Linked DNA regions of Homo sapiens. The protein of the gene in region 1 purifies or fractionates together with the protein of each later gene. This does not show direct contact. Each region holds a gene or a part of one and is shown in the gene's direction. Other genes may lie near its edges.

Evidence for each region.
Region 2: the proteins of C1orf210 (region 1) and UBE4A purify together in Homo sapiens (affinity purification with mass spectrometry; one large-scale study listed by BioGRID and IntAct). This does not show direct contact.
Region 3: the proteins of C1orf210 (region 1) and ZDHHC7 purify together in Homo sapiens (affinity purification with mass spectrometry; one large-scale study listed by BioGRID and IntAct). This does not show direct contact.
Region 4: the proteins of C1orf210 (region 1) and SLC27A1 purify together in Homo sapiens (affinity purification with mass spectrometry; one large-scale study listed by BioGRID and IntAct). This does not show direct contact.
Region 5: the proteins of C1orf210 (region 1) and ALG11 purify together in Homo sapiens (affinity purification with mass spectrometry; one large-scale study listed by BioGRID and IntAct). This does not show direct contact.
Region 6: the proteins of C1orf210 (region 1) and LMBR1 purify together in Homo sapiens (affinity purification with mass spectrometry; one large-scale study listed by BioGRID and IntAct). This does not show direct contact.

Annotation. Positions count from the first base shown.
Region 1 is NC_000001.11:43,282,782-43,286,947, reverse strand, and holds the start of C1orf210 (type III endosome membrane protein TEMP), read left to right. Parts: upstream 1-1,366; 5' UTR 1,367-1,504; intron 1,505-3,579; 5' UTR 3,580-3,677; coding exon 3,678-3,696; intron 3,697-3,840; coding exon 3,841-4,163; 3' UTR 4,164-4,166. UniProt on the Homo sapiens protein: May be involved in membrane trafficking between endosomes and plasma membrane.
Region 2 is NC_000011.10:118,362,600-118,366,099, forward strand, and holds part of UBE4A (ubiquitin conjugation factor E4 A), read left to right. Parts: intron 1-2,440; 5' UTR 2,441-2,481; coding exon 2,482-2,602; intron 2,603-3,500.
Region 3 is NC_000016.10:85,008,736-85,012,926, reverse strand, and holds the start of ZDHHC7 (palmitoyltransferase ZDHHC7), read left to right. Parts: upstream 1-1,391; 5' UTR 1,392-1,641; exon of another isoform or gene 1,642-1,821; intron 1,822-4,191.
Region 4 is NC_000019.10:17,494,524-17,498,023, forward strand, and holds part of SLC27A1 (long-chain fatty acid transport protein 1), read left to right. Parts: intron 1-2,731; coding exon 2,732-2,941; intron 2,942-3,500. UniProt on the Homo sapiens protein: Mediates the import of long-chain fatty acids (LCFA) into the cell by facilitating their transport at the plasma membrane.
Region 5 is NC_000013.11:52,031,749-52,034,100, forward strand, and holds the end of ALG11 (GDP-Man:Man(3)GlcNAc(2)-PP-Dol alpha-1,2-mannosyltransferase), read left to right. Parts: 3' UTR 1-1,852; downstream 1,853-2,352. UniProt on the Homo sapiens protein: GDP-Man:Man(3)GlcNAc(2)-PP-Dol alpha-1,2-mannosyltransferase that operates in the biosynthetic pathway of dolichol-linked oligosaccharides, the glycan precursors employed in protein asparagine (N)-glycosylation.
Region 6 is NC_000007.14:156,722,184-156,725,683, reverse strand, and holds part of LMBR1 (limb region 1 protein homolog), read left to right. Parts: intron 1-158; coding exon 159-249; intron 250-1,505; coding exon 1,506-1,572; intron 1,573-3,500. UniProt on the Homo sapiens protein: Putative membrane receptor.

The DNA of each region.
Region 1 (4,166 bases):
GTTTGGTGTAGCTGCAGCAGAGGAGGCAGGAAAGGTGGGAAGGGATGGCCCTGAGGGTTCAGATTTCATCCTAAGATCTTCAGGGCCAAGTGTGAACTGGCCCCCACCTTCCAGCCACAGTTCTACCATGCCTTGTTTGCATCCCCTCTCTGTACCCCCCTTTTATTTTTTTGAGACAGGGTCTTGCTCTGTCGCCCAGGCTGGAGTGTGATGGCGCAATCATGGCTCACTGTAGCCTAAAACTTCTGGGCTCAGGCAGTCCTCCCCCCTCAGCTTCCCCAGTAGCTAGGACTACAGGTGAGCATTACCACGCCCAGCTAATTTTTGTGTTTCTAGTAGAGATGGGGTCTCCCTATGTTGCCCAGGCTGATCTCCGCTCATGGGCTCAAGCAATCAACCCGCTTTGGCCTCCCAAAGTGCTGGGATTACAGGCGTGAGCCACCATACTTGGCCTCTCTGCAGCCCTTGCTCCCACTGTGCCCGGCCTATCCTTGCGAATTCGGGGCCTCCAGGCCTTGGCGCGTGCGGTCCTTCCTCCCTTAGGTAGTTACGGGGAGCCTGCCCTGGGTCAGTACTGTGCTGGGAGCCACAGGCTGTCAAAGCCTGGCCCCACCCCAGGAGAGCGAATAATCACAAGATAATGAGGAATGCTGCGACAGTGGGTGCTCTGGGCATGGAAGAGTGGGGACTTGCAGGGTAGAGGGAGGACTCAGGGAAGGTGATTCCTGAACTGGAGCTTGAAGAACAGGGGGCACCAGGCCCAGAGACGAGGAGTAAAGCTAAAGGGAATCAGAGAGCACCCGGGAGAGGTTCAGAGCCTGGCTTGTGGGGTCACGGGATCCTGAGATCCAGATGAAGGCTGAGCCCCCATCCAGATCCACCCCTCACCCCCTACACAGTTACACACACATTTGTAGGCAATTTGGGAGTGTTCTTGGTCCTCCTGGCTTTGCCTGGAAAGAATGCCCTCCCCACCCGCTCTGGTTCCAGCCCACCACCCTTACAGGCCTGCAAAGCTCCCTCTTCAACTCTGGACTTTGTACCAGTCACCGGACGTTCAGTTGTTTATCAACCTGAGCACCTGCCTGCTGAGGTGTCTGCCCCTCTAGGGCCCGCTGGACGCTTCTCTGGATCCCAGCTGTACAAACCGCAAGCATTGGGGGGTGAGGGTGAGGTCTACACCCATAAAGTTCTTGGCAAAAGCTTGGGGGAGAGGTAGAATTATCCCTCCCCACTGGAGGCGCTGCCGCAGCCCGCCCTCTGCCAGACCTGCAGCTTCAGCCCCGCCCACTGCCTCCGCAGGTGAGTCAAGCTCTGCCTTGACCCGCCCACCTGTCCAGGTTCTGCCGGCCCCAGCCGGAAGCTTACTCCGCGGATTGTGCACAGTTCTTGAAGGTGGGAACAGAAGAGAAGGCCCGGGGGGGCCGGGGAGGGGGTACCCAGGCTCTGCACAGTACCCAAGGGGCTTCTGGCAGCAGGAAGGAAGCTACACATCAGAGTTGGGGTAGGTGTCTGTGCATGTCAGAGGGGTGTTTGTTGGTGGAGGAAAGTGTGACCTGGGGGGAGGGGCTGTGCGTATGGGGGATGGGCAGATCAGTGTGGGCTGTGAGTTCAGAGGCCTGTTGGGGAGTGTATATGCACCCTTGGAAGGTTAGTGTGTGTGTGTCTTCTTGGGAAGAATTCACAGGGCAGGGAGGAAAGGAATAGGAATACAACCTTAGAAACGTCAAATTGAATTCAGTTCATTCCAGTGTAACACATTCTCATGTTTTGCGGACCTAGTACTAGGATGAGGCCCACAGCAGGCTGAGGAATGAATGAGCAGCTGACCTCTCCTTCCCAGGACGTCTCTCCCGCTCCCACCTGTATATTCACTCTCACGCTCCCCTCGTTAATTTCACAAGCACCACACTGAGGGGCTGAACGCCCAGCTCCCTGCAGCGCCAGGGTACAGATCCTTCAGCCAGCCGTTGCCCACGGGGAGCTGCCCGCCTAGCAATGACTGGTTCTGACTGGTGGTTGACTGGGCAGGATGGTGACAGGTCATCCAGGGTAGGTCCAGGGACAACCTCACAGGCAGGTATGGTCTGATTTGGCCTTGACAGACTGGCGCCCCAAAAACTGAGGAGGGCGTGGCCAGGGAGCAGGAGGGTGGGTGAGTGGGAGGAGGGCATGTGTGTCTGTCTGAAGTGCTGGGGAGGGAACTGTGGAGAAGAGGAAGAAGAGTTTGGCTTGAGGGCCGTGTGCTGGATTGCAAGGCACTGTGGGGCATGGGGAGCTTTTGAAGGGATTTTAACCAGGCTAGTGATGGGGTCAGATTTGGGTTGTAGGCCCATCACTCTGTGGAAGAGACCAGAGGTGGGGAGCCCAGTTAGGAGATTATGGCTAGAGTACAAGAGGAAGGTGGCTTGGACTCAGCTGTGGCAGTGGGGTGGAGAAGAGGGTATTGTCATTCCAGAGATGTTTAGTGGAAGACATGATGGGGATTGATACCAGGTTGGATGTGAGGAGGTTGGGGGGGGTTTGAAGGCACTTGTATCAAAGAATATACTGGGGTACTCCCCTCAACTTCTCTCCTAAGTACTTCCCTAGCCCGGCTACTCTGCCCCCAAGGACTCCCCTGGTTCAGGTGCTCCACTGGCAGATATGCTCCTGCCCTAGCTGTTCGTCTGCCAGGTACTTCTAACTTTCATGCTCCTCCTCTAGATACTCCCCAGATTCAGGTGCGCCTCCTCCAGACACTCCTTTGATCCAGGTGCTCCTCCTACAGGTGTTTCCATGCCTGGATGATCTTCCTCCAGCTACTCCCCTAATTGAAGTGTTCCTCCTCTAGGTGTCCCCAGCCCTGGGTGATAATTTCCTGATTCAGGTGATCCTCATTTGGATACTCCCTGGCTTGAGCCTCCCTGTGGGGGCAGAGTGTGGGCCTCCTTTGAGTAGAGGTGAAAGGACAGGGGTTTGCTTGAAGGGCTGAGGGTAGAGGTGGGCAGCAGCGGCTTTCAACTTAGAAGGGCCAGGGCTGCTCTGGCTGTGTCCAGGGCCCCTGTCCTCAGTAGCAACTTGCATCACCCTCCCCATATGTGGTCTCCGCTTTGGCTGGGTAGCTCCAAGCAATTGCTGTTTTCTGACCTTCGGGAGCCAGGACCCACCTCTGCCCCTGTCTCCCATCCTCAGCTTACCAAGCAGTGCAACAGACTGGGCTCTGGGTTCGAATCTGAAGACTTTAGTTGAGTCAGTTCACCTTTTTCAGCCTCAGAGCCCTCATCTATAAAGTGGGGATAATGTTTATACTTACCTTACTGGGTTTTGTGAGCATGATGCCTGGTGCTTGAATTATAAGGAATGCTCAGTAAGTTCTACAATTTATTTTTTTTTTAGCAGCTTCCAGAGCCAAACCCTGTGATGGTCCCTTACAAATAGCCAGTTTCTGTAGGCTCAGCTTGTTTCTCTTCTGTGGAGAGCTGGTGTGGTCAGTTGTCCAGTCCCCAGAGTTTGTGCAGGGCTACCATGGCTGTGAGTGTGACCTGGAAAGTGCACCCTGTGACCATCCCTGACACCCATACCTATGTTATTTTCTAGGACTTGTGCCCTGGGGCTGCCTGGCATCTGGGGGCCTCCTCAGAGCCAGGGCTCTTTCTGGTTGAGGCTGAGACTCACTGGTGTCATCAGGCCCCTCCATGAATGAGACAAACAAAAGTGAGTGACAGTGGGAGGATGATGGGGGTGGGGGGCTTCCCCTTAGATGCTGGGGTTGGGGGAAGGACCCTACCTGCACTGCTCTTGGTTTCTCCAGGGAGCCCCCTCTGGGGCCCACCTATAATGCTGTCCCTTTCTCTGCAGCACTTGTTGGGCCTTCGGAGCTCCCCACAGCGTCTGCTGTGGCCCCTGGCCCAGGCACTGGGGCTCGGGCATGGCCTGTGCTGGTAGGATTTGTGCTGGGGGCTGTGGTCCTCTCGCTCCTCATTGCACTTGCTGCCAAATGCCACCTCTGCCGCCGATACCATGCCAGCTACCGGCACCGCCCACTGCCTGAGACAGGAAGGGGAGGCCGCCCACAGGTGGCTGAAGATGAGGATGATGATGGCTTCATCGAGGACAATTACATTCAGCCTGGGACTGGCGAGCTGGGGACAGAGGGTAGCAGGGACCACTTCTCCCTCTGAGCT
Region 2 (3,500 bases), on another chromosome or scaffold:
TATAACTGAAAAGTCCAGACTTATCTTTCCATCTCTCAATTCTGTTTTCTAGTGTATGTTGGCTTGGTTTTAGGCTAGGCCTTTTCTAAATGGTGTAAAGATGGCAACTCTATCTTACTGGCTTATCAACTCAATCAGGAGAAAACTCACTTTTCCGTAGATTCAGCTGAAGTCCTGAAGCTGGTATTCATTGACTCTGTTAGGCCTCCATAGTGTCTTGTGCCCACTCCTGGATCAGTTGCTTTGGCTGGAAAATGCTGTATTCTTTTTAGCCTGGCCAGACTTGTATGTTCATTCCTGGGGCTAGTGGGTGAGGTCAACCCCTTCTGAACTGGTCAGCCTCTTCTGGATTGAGTGGAGTGGATACCCAAAGGAAAAAAATGAATGTGATGTTTTAGAGAGAGAAATAACAAGAGCTCAATATACTTTTTGCATTCCTCTGGAATTTGTGGTATTTTAGGATGGAAGTAGAATGGTGGTCAGCTAACAATAAGACAATTCTTGGTGTTTTTACATTAACTACAGGTAATAATTAAACTTGTGCGGTAATTACATGGGGAAAATCCCTCTCATTAATTTCAATACTAAATATGGTATCTTTCCCTTTTTTTGCATTATTAAGCTTACTGAAATATACATAGCAAAAAATAAAATACAGAAGGCCAGGCGCAGTGACTCATGCCTATAATTCCAGCACTTTGGGAGGCCGCGGTGGGAGGATCACTTGAGGTCAGGAGTTCGAGACCAGCCTGGCCAACATGGTGATACCCCGTCTCTACTAAAAATCCAAATAACAGTTCAATTCCTTGAAGCAGTAAAGCTTTGAGCTGCACTGAGAGGAGACTAGACTGCCTAAGTCATTACAGCTAATTAGCCGTTAGCTCTTGTGTGGAAAAAATGGCAGAGGAGCATGAAGCAAGTGCTGAAGATGCCTCAGAATTGTCAAGAAATGTTATAAATAATCTCTTTCTCTGGTAAATAAGGGTAACTTTTTCGACCACATTAGCTTTTTTTTTTTTTTTTTTTTTTTGAGACGAAGTCTCGCTCTGTCACCCAGGTTGAAGTGCAGTGGCACAATCTCAGCTCTCTGCAACCTCTGCCTCCCGAGTCCAAGCAATTCTCCTGCCTCAGCCTCCTGCCTCCCAAGTAGCTGGGATTACAGGCACCTGCCGCCATGCCTGGCTAATTTTCGTGTTTTAGTAGAGATGGGGTTTCACCATGTTGGCCAGGCTGGTCTTGAACTCCTGACCTCAGGTGATCCACCTGCCTCAGCCTCCCAGGGTGCTGGGATTGCAGGCATGAGCCACTGCACCTGGCCCACATTAGCTTTTGTTGATATGATCCTGTGAGGAGTCTTGCCTCAATAAACCAAAGGTAGACCAAATGTTCTTTTTTTCTTCCTTTATACCCCTACTCCCGCTATTTCTAAGGTCTCTGTCCTTATAGCAGTTCAAGATCCTTATGAACAAAACATTCATACCCTTTGTCTCTTCCCACCCTTTTCAGTGTTGTATTTAATATTTCTATGTCATGGCCTTAAAATTTCAGAAAGGGGAGAAAGCCTTTCAGGGAGCCCTGTTTATTCTGTTGTGCCACTGAGTTCACTTGGTCTTGAATGAGGAAATGTAATCAGAAGAGTGTGAATGCAGGCTCAGCCAGCTCTACTAAACACCTTTGAGGTATCTATATTTCATATTACACAGTAGACCTGACCGTTGGAATTCGTGTTTCTTCAGTATTATTTTAAGAAATCAGGTAAACAGTGAAGGTTAGATATAGCATGAAGCAAAGACCATTTAATTTTTAGTGGAAGAAATATCAGTATTTTTAAGCCTAGAAATAAATAGATTGCTTAATCTATGTTAAAAACCCACAACATACAGCTGAACTGCTTCCAGTCCTGATTTGCCAGAGTCCAAATCTAAGATATGGGCTTTTACTTAATTTATATGTAGCTGAGAAATATCCATCCCCAGCCCTAAGTCATAGAAGTCCCTTGTCCTCACCCCAGTGAATGAGAACTAGACTGCCAGCTTAATTCTTGGGAAATCCATAATTCTTGTCTTATTATTTTTCAGTGCCACATTGTTATTACAATTAGTAGGTGAGTTCTCTCTTTGACTTCAATAATTCTTTCTACTTAACCTGTTTTCTTAAAGGTATTGCAAATAAAAGTATATCAACAGATTAATGCATTCCAGCTGAACGTTTTAGCCTTTTTAGTTTCAGCTATCCACAAATCAAGCCACCGAGTCCAGCTGGTAGGTTTGTAACCATTTTGCCAAAAATGTCTTGAGTTTGGGGACAGGAATTGGAAAATCTTAACCCAAAGTATTTTAAAATGTATTGTATTTGAGAAATGGGAAAAGAAACAACCACAGGTATATTACAGCTATTGTGTCATCTGCCCTCTTGTGTCTAATACCTGTCCTTTGAACAGCCTCTCCCACTAGGTCTGGATGGAGGATACCTTAAAGTGAAATGACAGACCAGGAGAATAACAACAACATCTCAAGTAACCCCTTTGCTGCTCTTTTTGGCTCCCTGGCTGATGCCAAACAGTTTGCGGCAATCCAAAAAGAGCAGCTGAAGCAACAATCTGGTAAGTGGAGGAGCCAATAGCAGCAAATAAGATGACCTAGAATGGGGTCTTCCCAAATTAAGTATTCTTTGAGTCCTTAATTGCAATTGGAATTTAAGTTTGGAACAAAAGTTGGTTTTTGTTTGTTTGTTGAGAGCAGAAATTGGGGTTTTTTGTTTGTTTGCTTTTATTGTTGGTTTTGTTGTGAGTCCCTCCCCTCCGCTGTCCTCTCCACTGTACAAAAAGAGACCAGGTAACAGGTGGTTCCATAGTAACAGATGCCAGTCGTGATCCCAAAGCTGTCAGGCTGTTTTCTTTAAAAGAAAAAAAAAATCACCTAGTAAAAGCTATTTAAATAAATGTTTTTAACATGGGACACAGAGGTGGTAAGTGTAGGTGTAGAAAGCAAGTCATGTGCAGCTATAGAAAGCAGATGTAAAAGGAAGAACTATAAAAGCTTTTTGACCTGTAGGCAAATGAGACTTGTTCTTAAGCTCAGCACTTCAAAGGCCCTCCCAAGCAAAGTGCTTCTTCTGTTCCGATGAGTGGCATCATTTGTAGCTTAGTCCTGTTAGGACAGACTTTTTTAAAAAATCTGATCCTTAGCCTTACTATGAAAAACATCAGAATAACATCTCAGTAATCAGAAAAAATGGTTTTCTTTCAGGCACCGAATTTAAGATCAAGTCCAGCTTCCTCCTATAAGGAGACATATACACTAGAAGAATTAGGATTTTTCTCAAATATGTTAGTCTTCTGAAGATATTCACAATCTTTCAAACCAGAAATTGCTCCCCTTCTCCTCTCTCCGAAAAGAATAATAGTGTTTTTCTTTTGAGAGAAGGAGAAGTGTTTGCATTTTCCCTTTATTTTGTTTATTTAAAAAAAAAAAAAACACTCAGGTGCATAGCTGACTTTT
Region 3 (4,191 bases), on another chromosome or scaffold:
TTTTTCTTTTTCTTTTTTCATTGAGATGGAGTCTCGCTGTCACCCAGGTTGGAGTGCAATGGCGCGATCTCGGCCCACTGCAACCTCTGCCTCCCGGTTCTCAAGCGGTTTCTCCTGCCTCAGCCTCCCGAGTAGCTGAGATTACAGGCGCCCAAAACTGCACCCGGCTAATTTTTGTATTTTTAGTAGAGATGGGGTTTCGCCACGTTGACCAGGATAGTTTCGAACTCCTGACCTCAGGTGATCTGCCTGCCTCGGCCTCCTACAAGTGCTGGGATTACAGATGTGAGCCACCACACCTGGCCTTATTCTGGTTTTCTTTAGGTGTCTTCATTGAACAAGTAGGTATTGTCTGGCATACCCTTCTGGGTTATCTCGTCTTATGGGGTCTTACTTTTGTCTTTAAGCTATCTAGAGCTCTAGTGGAGCATTGTATATATACCATCATTAATGAGTTAAATGGTATCTTTGACATATGTTCATTTTATATTTGTGTGAGAGTCATAATTTTATTTTAAAAAAAAGATATGCTTTTTTTTTTTTTTTGAGACTGTTCACTCTGTCGCCCAGGCTGGAGTGCAGTGGCTTGATCTCAGCTCACTGCAACCTTCGCCTCCTGGGTTCATGATTCTCCTGCCTCAGCCTCTCGAGTAGCTGCTGGGATTACAGGCGTGCACCACTACATCCGGCTAATTTATGTGTTTTTAATAGAAACGGAATTTCACCATTGTTGTTCAGGCTGGTCTCGAACTCCTGACCTCAAGTGATCAGCCTGCCTTGGCTTCCCAAAGTGCTGGAGTTACAGGCGTGAGCCACCGCGCCCGGCCTTAAAATACATGTTCCTACTTTCAAACACTTAGGGCTTCCTATATGGAAGGGACAGTGGCGGTGCTCTAGTGTCCAAGTCCCTCAAGGAGGAGGCCGGGGGCTCCGCGGACCTCAGGAGTCAGGCCTCCAATCCCCAGTTCAGGGCGCTTTCCTCTTTTCCCAAGTGCTTTCTGGCTCAGCCATTTCCACTCCCGCTCCCTTACTTTCCCATTTCCTTCGGTCACATCCCCGCATATAGTACAGGCCACTGGAGCTGCCTCTGAGACACCGCCGCGGGCGCGGGTACACACTCCGCTAAGGGCATTCCCAACCCGGTTCCGCAGCCTAACGGCGTGGCTTGGACCCTGCTGCAGCCCGTAGCCCCTATCCTTTCTCCTCCGGACTTCAGTTTGGCGGCATCTCTGTCTTAGCGAGAGGGGCTGTGACTAAAAGCTGCCTTTTCTCAATGAACTGCCAGTTTGTAAGAGCCTCCGGGTCCCCTCAAACCGCCTCGAGCGCCCCTCTCCGCGAGAGCTGCGCGGCCGGAACTGCGCCGGCGTGACGTCACTGACCTCGTCGGGTTCACTTCCGGCGCTCGCACCGCCCCGCTCTCCAGCCAAGGCTCCGGGCTGAGGCATTTGCTTGGCTGCAGCCTCCTTCCGACCTGCCCGGCGGGACCCAGGGGACCAAGCCGAGCCGAGCCGCGGGGCCCGCTCCAGCCCGGCCATGAGCGCGGCCGCATGATGCGTCCCTGCCTCGGCCGCTGCAGTCGCCGCCGCCGCCGCCGCAGGCCGGGAGGAGCCGCAGCGCCGGGCGACCCCGCCCGGGCCTCGGGTGAGTGCGGCGGGCTGGGCCGGGCGGGCTGCTCACTCCCGGGTCTCCCGGCCACTTCTGGCCCCCGGCGTGCCCTGTCCTTCCGTCGGTTCCGCCGCTCTGTCTCCACCCCGCCGCACACCTGCGACCTTCTGGAGTTCCTAGGGGCACCTCCGTGCCCGCACCTGACTTCCCTTCCAGGTGCCCCCTTGTCATTCCTTAGTTGCTCTCTCGGGATAGGGCCCGGATTGCAGCCCCAGCTTTTTGCCTGACCTTGGGCGTGACACTCAGCTCTCCGAGCCCTGGTTTTCTGTGTGGCTAATGACGGGGTGGTGGTTACAGAGCAGCTATAAACCCTGTGTAAGCTGTAAAGAGTTTTTTAATAGGCAGGTATTACAATGAGCAGTCTCGCACTTCGCGTTGTGGCTTCTCTTCCTCTTAAGCTGTAAACTTTTCTCTTTTATTCTCTGCCCATCTTCCTAGTTATCTTCCCTCCTGCTCCACGTCAGTCATCTTTGGGTGTTAGTTGCCTGAAAGGGCATCTGGGACAGTAAAGCTTTCAGGGCAGTAAGGCTCACCTCTCCTGGTGTGGTTCCTTCTACAACTTTGTCACACTCAGTTAGATAGACACACTTTATTAGCTTATGAAGAACCAGTTTATTGTGGCCGTTAAATTGGAGTGTAAGAGACAGTGTTGATGCGGCTACCTGCCTTGTAGCTTCTTTTACTGTCTGGGCTGTATACAGTGCTGGGCAAATCGCTGCTACAGTGTTGCATTTTCAGTCTGCTTAGTGTATGCACTTAAGCGCACGTATTTATCTATTTTACTGTTACTATCCCAAGGGGTTTAGAGATTTAGGTCAATGTGTATTAATATTTCTTTCTGAACTCTTCATCTCACAGATGAAGAATCTCTTTTTTGTTATGTTTTACAGTGTTTACATACCTGAAATCACCTTTTAGTCACTTTGTGGCCTGGTACGCACGCGGTGGCTCGTGGCTCATGCCTGTAATCCCAGCGCTTTGGGAGGCTGAGGCAGGAGGATCACTTGAGCCCAGGAGTTGGAGAGCAGCCTGGGCAACATAGTGAGATCCCCTTCTCTACAAAAAAATTAAAAAATTAGCCGGATATGGTGGTACACGCCTGAGGTCTCAGCTGCTTGGGAGGCTGAGGTGGGGGGATCACTTGAGTTTGAGATCATGCCACAGCACTGCAGCCTGGGCAACAGAGTGAGATCCCCATCTCAAAAAAAAAAAAAAAGTCACTTTGTTAAATTCGCTTGTTAAAAGTCAGAACTTGGCCAGGCACAGTGGCTCATGCCTGTGATCCCAGCACTTTGGGAGGCCGAGGCGGGCGGATCACGAAGTCGGGAGATCGAGACCATCCTGGCTAACACGGTGAAACCCCATGTCTACTAAAAATACCAAAAATTAGCTGGGCATGGTGGTGGGCGCCTGTAGTCCCAGCTACTCGGGAGGCTAAGGCAAGAGAATCACGTGAACCCGGGAGGCGGAGCTTGCAGTGAGCCAAGATCGCGCCACTGCACTCCAGTCTGGGCGACAGAGCAAGACTCCGTCTCAAAAAAAAAAAAAAAAAGAAAAAAAGTCAGAACTTGGTTAAAGTGAAAGGCTCTTGGGATATTTGAAATATGGAATGGAACTGAAATATTAACTAAATTGCAATTCTTGAACATTCTGGAAAATAGGTTAGGGGCCCACATTGGCTTCTGATTTGAGAGTTGAAGGAGAAGAAGACTATTTGAAAAGGTAATTCCCAAAGGATTCGCTAAGTAACAATGGGAACTCTTCTGCTACCATTGGCTCAGAGCCTGCCTCAGTTGACAGATTAATGAATTGAAACTTTACAGCCCTGCTAATCAATGAACTGTAAAAACAAATCCTCTTCAAGAACAGAAGAGTATTAGCATGAATAGAATGGCCCTCTCAGTGAGAAAGAAAGCACTGAAATGAACTTTATATAAGAACAATCTTGATTCAGTCAAAAGTATGAACGTACTTTTACATTCTTACTGAAACTTACCTGCTGGCTTGGATGCTTTGTTGATATAAATAATACAATCTTTGTTAAATTAACAAAGAAAATGGGTGTAGAAATAAGTTCATGTAGAAAGTTAATGTTTGGGATGAACATTGAATAGTTTTCGTGATTGGACAACTATACAAGATAATTTTACTAAAGCAGCTTTTTGGGGTATGTTTCTGTAATATTTTAACTTTAGAAGTACTTTTTTTTTTTTTTTGAGACGGAGTTTCGCTCTTGTTGCCCAGGCTGGAGTGCAGTGGCTCGATCTTGGCTCCCTGCAGCCTCTACCTCCTGGGTTAAAGCGATTCTCCTGCCTCAGCCTCCCGAGTAGCTGGGATTACAGGCCTGAGCCACCGTGGCTGGCTAATTTTGTATTTTTAGTAGAGACAGGATTTCTCCATGTTGGTCAGGCTGGTCTCCAACTCCTGACCTCTGGTGATCCGCCTGCCTCAGCCTCCCAGAATGGTGGGATTACAGGCGTGAGCCACTGTGCCTGACCCTTTTTTTTTTTCTTCAAACCCTAGAGC
Region 4 (3,500 bases), on another chromosome or scaffold:
ACCATGTTGGCCAGGCTGGTCTCGAACTCCTGACCTCAGGTGATCCACCCACCTTGGCCTCCGAAAGTGCTGAGATTACAGGCGTGAGCTACCGTGCCCGGCCACAGGTAGCCCTTTTTATCGGTGCAGCTGCTGGCATCCCCTGCTGCAAGCTTCCAGCTTCCTTATTTGTGTTTGCAGCCCAATCTTCCAGGCTGTTCTTTGTTAGAAAATAAGTGATTTCTTGGGCTGCTTTTTGTTAGAAGGGAAGTTCTACCGAGGATTTTTTGTTTCCAAAAAAAAAAAAAATAGGCAACGTAGAGTAGCTACTCACCTGCATAATAAGAGATTGGGTTGGGGGCTGCCAGAGATTTGCGCCCTATGCGGATGGCACATCTGGTCCTCACCGGTTTTTCACGGTCTATTTAGATCAGATACAGCCTCCCTGCTAGCTTGTCTGTAAAAATCCTTGCCTTTTTTTTTTTTCTGAGGCGGAGTCTCACTCTTGTCCCCAGGCTGGAGTACAATAGAGCGATCTTGGCTTACTGCAACCTCTGCCTCTCGGGTTCAAGAGATTCTCCTGCCTCAGCCTCCCAAGTAGCTGGGATTACAGGCACATGCCACCAGGTCTGGCAAAATTTTCTTGTATTTTTGTAGAGATGAGGTATTACTACATTGGCTAGGCTGGTCTCGAACTTCTGACCTGAAGTGATCTGCCCACCTCGGCCCCCCAAAGTGCTGGGATTACAGGCATGAGCCACCGCGCCCAGCCATGTGCCCATTTTTTTTTTTTTTTTGAGATGGAGTCTCGCTCTGTCGCCCAGGCTGGAGTGCAGTGGCGCGATCTCGGCCCACTGCAAGCTCCGCCTCCCGGGTTTACGCCATTCTCCTGCCTCAGCCTCCCGAGTAGCTGGGATTACAGGAGTGTGCCACCACGCCCGGCTAATTTTTTGTATTTTTTAGTAGAGACGGGGTTTCACCATGTTAGCCAGGATGGTCTCGATCTCCTGACCTCGTGATCCACCTGCTTTGGCCTCCCAAAGTGCTGGGATTACAGGCTTGAGCCACCCCGCCTGGCCGTGCCCATTCTTAAGCCAGTCATATTGGCTGAGGAGGGGCTGGGCTGATTGGCCAGGTTCTCTCCTAGAGATGGTGTGGGCTGTACCACACCTAAGGCAGTGGCCCAAGTCTGAGAATGGAGGGAGAGGACCCTCCCCCTTAGGGACCTGCTGTTGGTCAGCAGCCAGTGATCTTGGGTGCACTGCATTTCCTCTCTGGGCCTCAGTGCCTTCATCTCCAAGCTCAGCTCAGAGCATGGCGGTGGTGTCTGCTGATCATATTGGTTTAGTCATCAGCTATTTAGTCAGTACCTTCTCAGGGGCACAGCTGGGGGCACAGGGGATGCCTCTCAGTGACGTTTGAGCTGAGACTGAAGAGTTCAGGCAAATGCATCTGGGGGAAGACTGCTTCAGGCAAAAGGCTAGCATGTGCAAAGTCCCTGAGGAGGCAGAGTGTTCAGCGGAGATGGAGGGAGAGGAGGCAGCAGGGGCGGCAGGGCCAGATCCAGTTGGCCACAGGAAGAAATGTGGGTTTCATCCTGTGTGTGAGCGGGAAGCCCCGAGCACATTTGCAGCTGTTATGATCCATCTGGTGGGTAATCCCTGGCATGCAACTGTTTTATTCCCACTCTGGGGCCGGGATGCCTGGGTTCAAATCAAATTCTGCCACTTCCCAGCTCTGTGATCTCGTTCCAGTTCCTTACCATCTGTGAGCCTCGGTTTCTCCATCTGTAAAGTGGCGGGGGGGGAGTCATTCCGAAGCCCAACTGGAGATGAGAACTCTTAAAGGCACCGTGGGGCACCTGGTGGATGACCCCAGGAAGCTCTTGCGGGGCTTGAGAATGTGTGGCAGGGAGGGAAGATGTCCTGCAGGGGGAGCCCATGAGCAGGTGGCTCCGTGGGCACCTGGGGCTCAGTCCAGACGCAGCGCAGCCTAGTGGGTGCACCTGGGAGTGGTCTGCCCAGGGGTGACGCTCCGGCCAGCCCAGGCTCAGCCAGGGGGCTCTGGGTGACAGTGTAGGCTCCAGGCTGAGGGTTGCCCTGCGGGGTGCCAGCTCTCCTGCTAGTCCTGCCCTGTGTGCCTGCTGAGGCTCAGACAGGGATGTGGTATCTCCAGGAAGCTGCTTGGCAGAATCGAGGGACCACGAAGGGGTGCGGGTAGGGGGAGGAGGAAAGACACTGCATCTGCTTGGATAGAAGTTGCATCCGGCCAGGCACAAGTGGCTCACACCTGGAATCTCACACTTTGGGAGGCTGAGGCAGGAGGATTGCTTGAGGCCAGGAGTTCAAGACCAGCCTGGGCAACAGAGCGAGATCCCCCATCTCTACAAAAAAATCTGTAGTCCCAGCTACTCGGGAGGCTAAGGCTGGAAGATCACTTGAACCCAGGAGTTAGAGGCTGCAGTGAGCTGTGATCATGCCACTGCACTCCAGCCTGGGCGGCACAGGGAGACCCCCAACCAAAAAACAACAAAAAAAGCTGCATCCTAGACCCTTTGCAAGAGACTGAACGAGTCCTAGGAGTCAATGTGGTCCCTAATGGAGTGTGGACGATTCTGCAGCCATCATCATCCTTAGGCTGTTCCGCTCATAGGATTAGCTCCCTGGGTGGGGCGGTCTCGGGGTCTCTCCTCTGATCCGGGCTCCCCACCGCCTGCCGGTCCCATCACCCACTTCCTCACCCCGTCCCCCAGGTGGTTCAGTACATCGGGGAGATCTGCCGCTACCTGCTGAAGCAGCCGGTGCGCGAGGCGGAGAGGCGACACCGCGTGCGCCTGGCGGTGGGGAACGGGCTGCGTCCTGCCATCTGGGAGGAGTTCACGGAGCGCTTCGGCGTACGCCAAATCGGGGAGTTCTACGGCGCCACCGAGTGCAACTGCAGCATTGCCAACATGGACGGCAAGGTGCACACCGGCAGGGCCCCGGGGCAGGTCTCGGAGTTCAGGGAAGACCACTGTCTCCTCTTCCTGGGGCCCCTGGGATACATAAAACAGCCTGGACTGGCGCGGAAGGCTCCGCCAAGGCGCACGCAGGGCGGGGTGTAAGGGGAGTTCCTGGGACTCCCGGTGCACCACCAGAGGGACAATCCTGCAGCCTGCACAGATAGTCATGTGACTGTGGTCCTTGGGTCAGGAGAGTTGGAGGATAGGTATGGCTGTGCGCCCTGGCAAGTGCCTCAGCCTTTCTGAGCCTCAGTTTCTGCGTGTGGAGATTAGCAAGGAGAATAGGGCTCTGTGTACCGTGCTGTTATTTTGTTGTTGTTGTTTGAGACAGAGTCTCGCTCTGTCGCCCAGGCTGGAGTGCAGCCACGTGATCATAGCTCACTGTAGCTTTCAGTTCCTGAGCTCAAGCAATCCTCCTGCCTCAGCCTCCCAAGTAGCAGCAAACAGATACCTTCATAATTAGCAACTACTTACTCTCTTAATCATCTCCATTCTCCGCTTGCATGAATCTCCCTCTCCT
Region 5 (2,352 bases), on another chromosome or scaffold:
CATCTGGGCCTACCTTCAGCTTCTTCATTTACAAACTTCTGACCTTTTGACACTAAAGCTGCTCCTTTATCTTTCTGAGTCTCAGATTCTTCATCTGTAATCTGGAGTTGTTAATTCCAGTCCTTACTACCTTTTAGAGTTGGAATGAGATGGAAAGTAGATGAAACTACTTTGAAAATTACGACAGTTAAGGGCTGGGTGCGGTGTCTCACACCTGTAATCCCAGCACTTTGGGAGGCCGAGATGGGTGGATCATGAGGTCAGCAGTTGAGACCAGCCTGAACAACATGGTGAAACCCTGTCTGTACTAAAAATACAAAAAAATTAGCTGGGCCTGGTGGCAGGCACCTGTAATCCCAGCTACTTGGGAGACTGAGGCAGGAGAATTGCTTGAAACTGGAAGGCAGAGGTTGCAGTGAGCCAAGATTGTGCCACTGCACTCTAGCCTGGGCAATAAGCAAAACTCCATCTCAAAAAAGAAAAAAAGGAAAAAGAAAATTATGAGAGTTACTTAAAGGTAACATCACATACTAAATGTCTTCTATAATCCTATATTTATTAATGCATTACAACTCTGTAGATTGTTAGTTACTAGGCCAGTAGCTAGGAATTGGTATAAATTTAATGCACCTTCTATCCTGAATAACTAGCATGGAAAAGTGAATATATGTGTGAGCAGATATGGCTATAAAGACCTATAGCTTTTGCACTTTATGCATATATAATCAATCCTTTCTAGTTCAGTGAATTGACCCCATCCACAGGCTGATTCATCTTTGTGTTAAGGGGCAAATGAAACGGTATATTATTTCTTTGCAGTCTCCTCTCAGTCATTCATCAATGTGGCCAGCTTATCTACTCCCAATTATGTTGTTGATACATCTCCAAGCCATCTGTCATCAGATCAAAAAGCAGCAAACAGAGGGTCAGTCACAGGATGTTCTGACACACCATTGTAACTTTTTGTTAGAGATGATCCCATTTAGAAAAAGACTGGTAGAAATTGGAGTGAAAGGAACCCTACAGATTAGCCCAGTTCTCTCTTATTTTCAGCTTTACAGACAAGAACAATTTAAATCTAAAGAATTTAGTAGATTCCTTCAGTGTCACAAAGCTGTTTCATGAAAGAATCAAGATTATAACCTGGATATTCTGACTCCTGGCCCAGTGCTTTTTCTTACTTTGTAGCTACACTTTGAAGTAAGATTCAAACTGTTATCCACTCAATTGCCTTATTCCTGAGGATGTAGTGAAGGAAGAAAAAGTTTTCTGGAATTCCGTAAATTATATTTTAAGCTTATTTCTTCAAAATTATTTTCATATATCACAGATATATCATTGGAAGATATAATTTGCATATATGTTCATTATCAGTGTTCCTAATTTGGTATTACATGTATTCTATTTTTTTCTGAATGATAGCATGAAAAGTGTCAAAGTGGTTTGTCCGCTAGCGTCTGTCTGCAGAACTTTCAGGATGACTATTAATTCCTCTCAGATGTCATTTTTGAGTGGTCCAAGCCTGCTGTTTTGAACCCACAGCAGTGGAGATTTGTATTCTTATTTACAGTTGTGTACTATAAAGTGTGTGTTACATAGGTTTTGTGTAATAATTATTTGTAAATATTATTTAGATTTGTATTTAGACATGATTTATATCTAATATAGATACAAAGTCTGTGTCTAAATATTATTTAAAGAAGTGATTTTTCATTCTCTTGGATTCTTTCCAGTGTGGTGCCTTTTATATGCCTCACATAGTCTCCTTGTTCTCCTACTAATATTCCCAAGCTCCATATGCCAATTAAAGAAGAAACAAAAATAAAAGTTTGTCTTGCTTGTGAAACATTAAGAAGAGGCTGTCAGGTTTAATAAACTTTTTAATGAATATTTCAGACATAACAAAAAACTGCAGAGCTTCGTACACTTGATTTAAATAATTCTTGAGGGATTTTATAAGGTCATCTTATAGACAAAATTAAGAGACACCAGTGTGGTTATCAATGCTTTCAGAATACTTGTGTTTATGTAAATATACCCCAGAGTCCAAAACTCTGATATATTCATATATATTCACAATGAGAGGATGTCTGTGCCAAATCTGTCAATCAGTACAATAGAAAAGTTAATTATATAACTACAACACGAAACACAAATTTTTAGAAGCAAATTATGTCCTGTAATTTACCCCCCTCCCCGCTGCTCCTCTGCTAACTCATTTTCCTCTTTTCCCACTCTAAATGTAAGGCAACCCTTGGCTTTGGAGAAGCATCTGTTCCAATATTCTGGTGCTATGTGCTCAGTTGTACTATATGCAAATGTTACTAGACACAGAGGAGGTCAAAGTGTTGA
Region 6 (3,500 bases), on another chromosome or scaffold:
CACTTGTCTAGAAGAGAAAACAACAGGTTAGTCTTCCTCAAGCACTTAAAGCGGCTTTTTGTTTTGCTTTTCCTATGGGCCTTAAGACTTTTTGGAGACTGCCGAGAACTTAGGAAACTTGCATTCTGTTGGAGAGTTTTTTTCCTTGATTCTCACAGCTATCTTATGGTGTCCTCTGTTGTCGGCTTCTATAGCCTTCGATTTTTTGGAAACTTTACTCCCAAGAAAGATGACACAACTATGACAAAGGTAAGGTAGAATCTTAGGTGACTGTGGCCTCTCGTTTGCCTTCCCTGACAGACTGCTTTATTTAATAGTCATTCTGAATGGTTCATTTGCAGTGATAGGTATTTGTTTGTAAGTTGCGTAAACACAAACTGGAAGATTTTCAAAATGCTGAGTGAGTGGGAAAGGGATGTACCCTGTTTAATTTGGATGGCGTCCATTCACTGTAAATGCGGAGAACTGCAGAGCTTGTTAACTAGCTATAGAAGGCTCCTGAAAGGACTCTTTTTCCTCTAAAGAAAACGTATTGCTAATGAGTAACTTGGATTGTGCTAACTGTACTTCAGGGAGCTTGTTTGAAGTCTGAAGAACTTAGTTGCTACAAGTAGTAGGGACAAAGTATTTCAAATTTGAATAATTAAAGTAAGACGGAAGAGTTCTATTCAGAAACATTTTGTAGTCTGAGGCTAATTTGACTTTTTCCACAACATGTCATTGGGTTCAGAATAAAAAGGCTGTTGCCGTATATAGTGACTGAATCTTTATAAAATATTCCCGTAGGCTGACAAAGAAGAATAACTAATAAGAGCTGAAAGCTTGTTTTGTTTTTATTTTATATTTTTAGCCTACTTAAAGGGGAGAAGTTATTTTACACACACACACACACACACACACACACACACACACACACACAGCTATTTCTTTAAACTTAATAAGTAGTTGAGATATTTAGTATCTAGTTTAAGTGATCATAAATATTAATTGATATTTTCAACTCCTCTTATTTACTATGGAAGAATAAACATGGGATGCATTATTACAAAAGTTTAGAGGTTTTGGATTTCTGGTGCTTTTTAAATCTTACAATTAACATTAGAAATAGATGTGATAAAAGAGATCTTAAGCAATAATCTGGCCTTAAAAATGTAGTCAGAAGTATCCAATATGTTAATTATTTTTTGCTTGACAGGCAGAGCCTTTTGAAAGTAACAGCTGCAATCAGTAATGTAAAGTGCATTATCTAGGTGTCAAGTAATTTAAGTATTCTATAACTATATCTGTGCTAGGTACTGTAAACATCTTCTAGAACTTACAGATATAACTTTATTTATTTTAAAAGTGTGTTATTCTTTGAAAATTCTGTACTGAATAGTATCATTAAGAAATCGGCAAAGTACACTAGGTAACTAGAATGCACAATCATTTCTCAGAATGTTACTGGGTTTGATTGTCATCCTGCTGTTTAACTGCCCAATATTCTTTCTCGTTTCTCATAACAGATCATTGGAAATTGTGTGTCCATCTTGGTTTTGAGCTCTGCTCTGCCTGTGATGTCGAGAACACTGGGTAAGTTTCAGTGAGAAATTTTCACTTAAAGATCCATGTTTTTAAAAACTGTCTTTACTGAACTTATTTAACATTTACTCATAAAGATTACCTTTGAAATACAGTGTTTCTTCCTACATTATTTTACACTTTTACTTCTATACTTTATGTATAGGGGCATACCAAGACAAATACTTTTATCAAATAATGACTACTTATTTTTTAAACACTTAAAAGCATTCTTTCTCCAAACAACGGGCTGGTTTTTGTTGTATTTTGTTTTTACTGACACATCTATAAGTTAGGCTTTCGAGTCCTCTAGTGAGGAAACTGCATTAAACTAATTTTTCTATTTAAAAGCTTTTGAGCGTTTATAATTTAGTATGGTTTAAAAAATTGAAAATTTGTAAATTATTTTAAGCTGCTTTGTGTCCACAAAATAGAGGTGAACGCAGTGTAATCTCTGAGAACACACTCTGATTCAAAGGACACCCTTGAGAGTTCCTACTTGCCTGTCATTCATTTCTGTCATTTTCTTATTGTTTCAGTTTACGGAGAATTTGATAATCTTTTAAAAGAAAAACAGATTTTTGCTTTGTCATTGAAATAGTTGAGTAAGTCTTCCCTTAGTTGTCTTTTATAAAATGCTATTGTAGACCATATTCTGAGTTCTTCACTAAATATTATTTCAGACAAAAGTTTCCATTAAGCATTTCTATCTAATTCTCTAGACTTAGGTTTTGACTTAAGAGTGCACACGAATGATTGGAAAATTTTGATCATTAAATTTTAGCTACTTGCTCATAACAAAAATTGCTGGTAACTTTGAGTTGCTTTTGCATTAGCTCTCATATTGCCTCCATTATTTATTGAAGACTTACAGATACCAGGGATGCAGGCTGTGCAAAGAAAGTAGAAGCTTTGTAGTTATCTTCATAATTCTTACAAAGGATTTCATGTTTGTAATAGAAAACAAAAAGTATAAATGTAAAGGGACCACTGTTCCATAAGCTAATAAAAAACTGGTGTGTGTAATAGTCTTATTTCTTTTGTGTTTGCTTTATAGGACTTGTAATTGTTTTGACATCTGCTTATGTGAATCTTGAAAATGCCAAAAGTATGCTCTTTAGCAACCTGATTTGATGTTAAATGTTATCATTTATATTATGACAGTCTATTAAATAATTTCTGTTATATTTCAGCCAACCTATCATTTTAATACTTAGGAAACTCATTCACTGTACTATTATTTAAGATTGATTGCTAATCATTAATATATACCGATTTTATGGAAGAAAATTACATGCTGAGTATAGTTTTAACACAAAGAAAACAAACTAATGGTAAAATTTACTTTTTGAAGGCCAACAAATTAAATTCCAGAGTAGTTTGCCATAGAGATAAATAAAAAGAAAAAAAAGAAAGATGGAACAATTAAAATGCAGCTAACAAATGCCTGGACCCAGCTGTCCAAACAGGATTAATGGAGTGCATTAGGGTACAGTGAGTCATGTGGTGCTTTGCAAAATATCAACACGCACTGCATTACATGTTATGCCCAGTGGCATTGAATAGATGAAAAGAAATAAATACGTTAAACAGATTCATAGAGGCTTTTCACAGTATTAAAAAAGCAAATTTCTAGACTAAAAGAAAAAGCTTTATTTTAGCATTATGGGAAATGCAAACTAGAGAGTTACTTTGTAATTCCTCTATTAACCCTTTAGAATTGAGTCTTTGATTTTAAGAAGATAAAATATAGGGAATTGTCATGAATATTATCCTAGTGTATAACAGGATTTTGATTTACCAGCTGAAAAGCTTATAAGACTAGAATAGAGGATGTATTTAAGCAATCAGATTCCAAGCTGTGACATTTTTCAGTCTTTCTTGTCGCCTCTCTCAAGGAAACCCTGACCTTAGTGTGGTCTCCTTTGCTCCTGTGAAAT